Homo sapiens: one gene and its partner. The protein of the gene in region 1 purifies or fractionates together with the protein of each later gene. This does not show direct contact. Each region holds a gene or a part of one and is shown on either strand. Other genes may lie near its edges.

Region 1 (5,454 bases):
GGGAAGCTGAGGCAGGAGGATTGTGTGAGCCCTGGAGGCTGAAGCTGCAGTGAGCCATTATCATACCACTGCGTTCCAGCCTGGCCAATAAAGTGAGACCCAGTCTGAGAAAAAAAAAAAAAAGAGAGAGAGAGAGAGAGAGAAACTACTGAAAGCTACAGACCTTTTACTCTTTAACAAATACAAGCAGAGCAAAATCTATAAACAATTCAAGGAATGTGTGGATCCTTTCTGTTTTTTCATAGGATTAGGAGTCTAGAGTTTCTTTTAATAATTCCCTCATCATGGATGTCTCTGAAACTTTGAAATAGAATTCCCATTTTTCATTTCATCCGTAGAGCTTGGCTGAAGGTCTGCAAACAAGGAAACACATGATTGGGTTATTATTTCTGATCAGATGCCCAATTTAATGAATTGAAACATTTGAGCCAATTATTAACTCCTTATTTGGAAACACTTTCCCATACTGTTTATTTATTTGCAACTTTAATAAATGACATCAGAGGCACTGAAGAAGCAAAGGTTTCTAATACTGACATGTACTACTGCTCCAACCAATCAATATCTGGAATCACAATTGGATTATACATATTGGCTAGAAGAATATTCAAGAGATATTCACGAGCATGAGAGAGAAAGCCTAAATTGCTTTGAACAGACTGTGAGTAGAACTGGAGATTCTAAGAACTCTGCTAGTGATGACTCAGAAGGAAGGAAAGAACATGATAGAGAAAATCTGTATTGTCTTAGAGACTATAAATCATCATACACAGGCTTTTTGTAGAAATATAGATGTTCAAGTGTTCTTACTGTCTATAGTAAAATGTGAGAGGAAAGATAAATTGAGAAAATAACTATGAGGCAGAAAACGAGGACTTTATGGTTTTGGAAATTCTCAGCCTATTAGGATGATAAAATATTTTAAAATTGGGGAATTCAATGTCAGGAAAGCAGTGTATCCTGTTGTCTTGTAGAGAAAGCCAATTGTATGGCTGGACAGCCTTTTGCTATTGCCTCTGCAGGATTAAACGGTCAGAGTATTCAGTCACACAGAAAGCTCACTGAAGAGATTAGCATGAAGCAGGTTTGGTGTGCACTGGTTACCAACTTGCCTGAGTCTGCTAAGAAAGAACACCCACATAACGCAACAAATTCCATGAAGTGGATTTATTACTTGCACGTGCGCAGCAACCAAAACCTAAAATTCATTGTGAGCTGGTCCTCCAAGGTTCAGAAAGCTGCCCGGGATGAATGGAGTCTCAACTGTACATGCCCCACTTGCCCTGCAGATAAAGGACCACGAAGTGCAGACCACCTTGGGTTTTATACCCTGGAGAAACATGACGTACTAAGCTAAGTGTTGAAGGACATCCTGTTTCTAGTGGAGACTGTAACAAAGCCTGGGCTATTCCACCCAGTACCTCTCTATCTCAGAGTGTTACATTTCCAGCACTTTCTGCAGTTATTCTTGATAACTACAAGTGACAAGCAGAGAGGAAAACAGGGTCAGCCCAAGGCCACCCTGAGAACTGTCCTGCAATTAGATGTATGTCTCATGGATTCCTTCAACCATAATGGCAGAAGCCACCAATCAAGATGAAACTATCTCGTAAAGATGTGTGGAGGCTGGGCGCGGTGGCTCATGCCTGTAATCCTAGGAAATGAAACAAAGGAAAAGGAAATGAAACAAACAAAGGAAAACATGGAAAAGATGGATAGGACAAGATAATGACTAGTCTACACATAAAATAAAATATCTATTTCCGCAAATAAACATAAACAGAGGATCATCACTATCTCACAGACCTGGTGAAAAGGAATGAGAACATGTCCCTGAAAGGATATTTATTCTTGTTCAAAATAAACAGGTTGAAATGAAAAGGAAAAGGAATAGAAGTAAAATATTATTGCTACTTAGATCAGCAAGGTAGAGAGGAGGCACATGGAGTTGGGGATAAAAGAAAAGAAGTAAATGAGTAAAATAATTGAGGGGATATTACTATAAGGCAGCCAGCCAGATAAAAGATTTTAATGGTCCACATTACAGAGGCAACATATTAAAAGGATGATGAGGTGAACATCTAGACACTAGCTGGTGGTCTTGCTCTTCTAAAAGTCAGTGGATCCTAGGCCGGGCACAGTGGCTCACACCTGTAATCCCAGCACTTTGGGAGGCTGATGCAGGCGGATCACCTGAGGTCAGGTGTTTCAGACCAGCCTGGCCAACATGGTGCAACCCTGTCTCTACTAAAATACAAAAATTAGCCAGGCATGGTGGCTCGTGCCTGTAATCCCAGCTACTCAGAGGACCGAGGCACATGAATCGTTTGAACCTGGGAGGCAGAGGTTGCAGTGAGCCAAGATTGTGCCATGCACTCCAGCCTGGGTGGGTGACAGAACGAGACTCTGTCTAAAAAAAGAAAAAAAAAAACAAACTGCAGAGCAGCCTCTTGTTTAGTGGAATGAATTACTATGACATACCCACGAGGGTCACAAGGTACCCCCCCAAATTTTTTTTTTTGAGATGAAGTCTTGCTCTTGTCATGCAGGCTGGAGTGCCATGGTGTGATCTCAGCTCACTGCAACCTCCTCCTCCCAGGTTTAAGCGATTCTCCTGCCTCAGCCTCCCGGTACCCAAGAATTTTATACCTTCAGAAGTACTGCCAATTTGGACTAAAAGGTATGAGGAGAATATGACAGGGAGGAGAATATGACAGGAAGGAGGGCTGTTGAACTCCCCAGATTCTGCAAGTAGGAAATAAACTGACAAACCACTCAGCTGTAACCACATGCAACGATTCATGAAAAACGAAGGAAAACTCTGAAGGTGAAGCAATGAGCCCAGATGGCAGAGCTTCTAGCCCAGAAGGCTGAGCCAAACCACAGGATTATTTCCAGTCCTTAAAACCTAATTTTGTTTGCCCAGTTGGAGTCAAAATGTCTTGGGACTGGCACCTCATTTTTTTTTTTACTTTCTTTTTGCCCCCATTAGAATAATGTCTATAATTGGTATCCTATGCCTGTCCCACTATTGGTTTTGGGGAGCAGGTCATTTTTTCCTAGTTTCATAGATCCACAGAAGGAGAGCAATTTTGCCACTGAATGGATTACACCCAGACTCTCACCCACACTTGATGTAGATTATTTGGATGATGTGATTTGGGAATTCCGAGCTGATGAGCTTTAGATGAGATTTTTCACTTTGAATTGATAATATAATTGTTTGGGACTTTGGGGGATGTTGGGACAAGATGAATACATTTTCATTCCAAGAGGGGTGTATATGAATGTCTGGGATCTAGAGAACACTCTGTGGTAGGCAAATAATGCTCCCTCCCAAAGATATACATGTCTGAATTCCTATAATTATGAATGTGCTATTTTACATGTTCGAAAGGCAAAAGGATCTTTGCAGATGTGATTAATATAAGGATTTTGAGACAGGGAGACTATCATGGATTACCCAGGTGAATCCAGTTTAAATGCAAGAGTTCTTATAAGGCAAGCTTGTCTAACTCGTGGCCCACCAGCTGCATGTGGCCCAGGACAGCTTTGAATGTGGCCCAACACAAATTCATAAACTTTCTTAAAACATTATGAGATTGTTTTTGCAATTTCTTTTTAGCTCATTAGCTATCATTAGTGTTACTGTATTTTATGTGTGGCCCAAGACAATTCTTCTTCTTCCAATGTGGCCCAGGGAAGCCAATAGATTGGACACCCCTGTTATAAAGGAAAGAAGATGGTAGGAGAGTTAAAGAAGTGATGATGGAAGAAGAAATCAGAGTGATGTGATTGCCTGTTGGAAGGGGGCCATGAGCCAGGGATGCAGGTAGCCTTGAGAAGCTGGAAAAGGCAAGAAAATGGATCGTTCCCCAGAGCCTCCAGAAGAAATGCAGCTCTACCCACACCTTGATTTTATTCTAATGAGACCCATTTTGGACTTCTGATCTCCAGAACTATAAGACAATACCTTGTGTTGTGTTAAGCAACTAAGTTTGTTGTAATTTGTTAAAGCAGCAATAGGAAACTGAAACAGCCATGATAGGTGCTCAGAAGAACTCCAGGAGGCATGAAAGGAGGATGCTAAAGCCTTTACAGTGCAGGTGTCCCTGGCGGGCACTAATGAGAGAGCCTGTTGTATTGCAACTTGGACAGATTCTAGAGCCTTCTGTTACAGGGGTTCCTATGCAATGTGGGCTGATTTTCAAGTAATAAACATGAGTGGACCTAAGTAAAATTTATAAATAAGGAATATGTTGTCTTTAAAGTGTAAAAAAGGCCTAAAAGATGTTGGGCTTGTAACATTATGGGCACAGAGATGCTCAATAATTGTTTCTTAATAGTATTGGGGATGGAGAGGTCTTCAACTAACCAAATGATCCTTTGGAATTTAAGTGAGGGACTGGGTCTGATACTTTGCATGGGACAATGGCTTATCCCCTTTGTGAGCTCCTTTTTGAATGTTTCTATGTCTTAAATGAGTGTGGCAAATGAATCTCCTCAGAGGAGGACACCCTCAATGTAATGTTATATCTGTACTCCTGGAGAAAGCTGGAAGCAGTGGCTCTTGCTGGCAAAGATTGTGGGCAATAGTAGGGCTGTTGAAGTATACTATGAGTAGCCATGCATTGTGTTTCTTCCAAGGTAAAGACACACTGTGGCTGAGAGCCTGTTAAAATCAGCATGGAAAAAAACATTCTAGCCAACTCTATGACTGCAAAGTATTTGCCAGTAGATACTTGGATAGAGTCTTTCATTTCAATTAGCTTGAGTATGAGGGCCTTAATATGTGGGGCTATCTGTTAACATACCCCCAATCCTTACACAAAATTTGATTTGGATGTGATGAAGGCACACATGCATTAAGAAGATATGAGAGGTTTATGACTCATAGGGTGAGGTATTTTTTTTTCTTTTTTTCAGAATAGCAGGACAGGCTCCCAGGCAAATCTGAAAAATGGCTTTAGAGAGCAGGGAGGGATGACTGGCTTGAGTTTTTACTGTGAGGAGGGGTAGGATGGGCTGAGGATTTCCTTTCATTGTCCTGACTTGCATGGATTGAAACTCCTACCAGGGATAAGAGAGAAGGTGTGTGTGAGTTTTCTTACCAATTTACTCAGATGAAGCATGGGGTTGGGAAGGGGAAATGGGGCTTGACATTTGTCAAGAGGCAAAGAGTGAAAATGGAGTCAGACTTCTTATTACACATGGATAATGAAGAAGGGGCCAAGCAGGCAAGTTGAGATGTAGGGGACTACTCTATTAATGAAGTCTTTTAGTACTTTTTGACTGAATTTAAAAATTATTTGCATGTATCACTTTAAATAATAAAAATGATTGTTTTTGTAAAACAGAAAGAACAGAGGCTCTGGAATCAAACAAATGTGTACTGTATTTAAACACAAACTATACCAATGTCTCACACCTGTAATCCCAGTGGTTTTTAAGGGA
Region 2 (2,537 bases), on another chromosome or scaffold:
ACCAAGCAACACACAATCAGTAAAGCAGAGCTTAAGAATATATAAAGCATTATGTGCCCCTAAATAGAAAATGTACCTTTTCAAATATCTGTGGAAAGAAAATCAAATTTTCTGTCCCCTATGTCAAAACAGACATAATGCAAACAAAATTCTTTGATATAATGGAATAAGATGAGCAACTAAAAATCTGAAAATGGGCCGGGTGCGGTGGCTCACGCCTGTAATCCCAGCACTTTGGGAGGCTGAAGTGAGCAGATCACCTGAGGTCAGGAGTTTGAGACCAGCCTGGCCAAACATGGTGAAACCCTGTCTCTACTAAAAATACAAAAAATTAGCTGGGCATGGTGGTGGGCATCTGTAATCCCAGCTACTCAGGAGGCTGAGACAGGAGAACTGCTTGAACCTGGGAGGCAGAGGTTATAGTGAGCCAAGATGGCGCCATTGCACTCCAGCCTGGGAGACAGAGCAAGACTGTTGGAAAAAAAAAAAATCTGAAAATAGAGATCCTTCCATCTGAAACCAAGAACTTCCATATTTAAATAACTTATGTCAAACTGTAGTATTTCAAGGAAATGATGACAGTAAGTTGTGATTGCTAATTATTTGAACATCATCTGTCTTTTAAAAAATTTAAGGTTCTTAAAGATGTGGGATTGAAAAAAGAAGATATTGCAATGTGGGAAGTAAATGAAGCCTTTAGTCTGGTTGTACTAGCAAACATTAAAATGTTGGAGATTGATCCCCAAAAAGTGAATATCAATGGAGGAGCTGTTTCTCTGGGACATCCAATTGGGTAGGTAAAAATAATAACTATATCTAGGTTAAGAGCTGCCTTTGTGTTTCTAGCTAAACTTAAAACTGCTTCATAATTCCCATTGCTCTTAAGTTTTCCTTCCTACCCATCTTTCATAAGGCAAAAACCATTTCTGATAGATGGTATCCAATACTGAACAGAGACCTGTCACATCTGTTATTTGAAACCTAATAATGTTTTATGCTGAAGAAGAAAAAGTGTACATTTAGACTTTTTACCCCCTTTTTCTCCTTCCTATTTATTTCATTAGCTTTAGGGTACCGTGGGTTTTGGTTACATGGATGAATTTATAGTGGTGGGGGCTGATTTCAGTGCACCTGTCAGTCACCCAATATGTAGTTTATCCCACATCCCTCTTCCATTATACTCTACTCTTCTATCCATTATACTGTTCTGTACTTTTAAAAGATCTGTGACCTGGCCAGGCACGGTGGCTCACGCCTGTAATCCTAGCACTTTGGGAGGCTGAGGTGAACAGATCACGAGGTCAAGAGATAGAGGCCATCCTGGCCAACATGGCGAAACCCTGTCTCTACTAAAAATACGAAAATTAGCTGGGTGTGGTGGTGCACGCCTGTAGTCCCAGCTACTTGGGAGGCTGAGGCAGGAGAATCGCTTGAACCCAGGAGGTGGATGTTGCAGTGAGCTGAGATTCTGCCATTGCACTCCAGCCTGGCGACAGAGCGAGACTCCATCTCAAAAAATGATCTAAGATCTGTGACCCTTCCTGAAACAAGTCCTCCAAGTTTTAGTTTTAGAATAGTAGTAGTTAATTCAGCAAGTAGTAGTGGCTAGTAAGGTTTTCAAGAAGTTAAATTGGAATAGAAACATTTTGGTTAGTCATAAATTCTGTACTTCATTAAAGAAGTAAATGCTTTCTTAATTTTAGGATGTCTGGAGCCAGGATTGTTGGTCATTTGACTCATGCCTTGAAGCAAGGAGAATACGGTCTTGCCAGTATTTGCAATGGAGGAGGAGGTGCTTCTGCCATGCTAATTCAGAAGCTGTAGACAACCTCTGCTATTTAAGGAGACAACCCTATGTGACCAGAAGGCCTGCTGTAATCAGTGTGACTACTGTGGGTCAGCTTATATTCAGATAAGCTGTTTCATTTTTTATTATTTTCTATGTTAACTTTTAAAAATCAAAATGATGAAATCCCAAAACATTTTGAAATTAAAAATAAATTTCTTCTTCTGCTTTTTTCTTGGTAACCTTGAAAAGTTTGATACATTTTTGCATTCTGAGTCTATACTTATCGAAATATGGTAGAAATACCAATGTGTAATATTAGTGACTTACATAAGTAGCTAGAAGTTTCCATTTGTGAGAACACATTTATATTTTTGAGGATTGTTAAAGGTCAAGTGAATGCTCTTTATAGGTAATTTACATTTAGTAAATTACGGTAAATTAAATTACTTCTCTTTACAGTAAGAGTTGGCTATTCTGGACAAACTAGCAGTGCTTCATATAATCACTCAAACCACAGTGTGTGCAGCAGTACTAGAAACAAGACAGAAGCCCATGTCCTCAGGGTCTAGAGTGGGGGCAATTTCTTATAACCTCAACATTCAGGGTTGGGGGAGGTCAAGCAGAAAACCCTGGAGTTTGGGCTCTGAATTACTATAGCAGCATAGAGAGTGGGAAGGGAGGTAGAAACTGATATGCTGAATGGATATATAAAAAAGGGAACAGATCACCACTTCCAATACACGACAAT

The links. Proteins that work in one complex are often made in the same cells at the same time.
Region 2: the proteins of UGT3A2 (region 1) and ACAT1 fractionate together in Homo sapiens (co-fractionation; one large-scale study listed by BioGRID). This does not show direct contact.

Annotation. Positions count from the first base shown.
Region 1 is NC_000005.10:36,052,207-36,057,660, reverse strand, and holds part of UGT3A2 (UDP-glucuronosyltransferase 3A2 isoform 1 precursor), read left to right. Parts: intron 1-2,599; coding exon of another isoform or gene 2,600-2,680; intron 2,681-5,454. UniProt on the Homo sapiens protein: UDP-glucuronosyltransferases catalyze phase II biotransformation reactions in which lipophilic substrates are conjugated with glucuronic acid to increase water solubility and enhance excretion.
Region 2 is NC_000011.10:108,145,567-108,148,103, forward strand, and holds the end of ACAT1 (acetyl-CoA acetyltransferase, mitochondrial isoform b precursor), read left to right. Parts: intron 1-635; coding exon 636-793; intron 794-1,682; coding exon of another isoform or gene 1,683-1,703; coding exon 1,704-1,824; 3' UTR 1,825-2,037; downstream 2,038-2,537. UniProt on the Homo sapiens protein: This is one of the enzymes that catalyzes the last step of the mitochondrial beta-oxidation pathway, an aerobic process breaking down fatty acids into acetyl-CoA.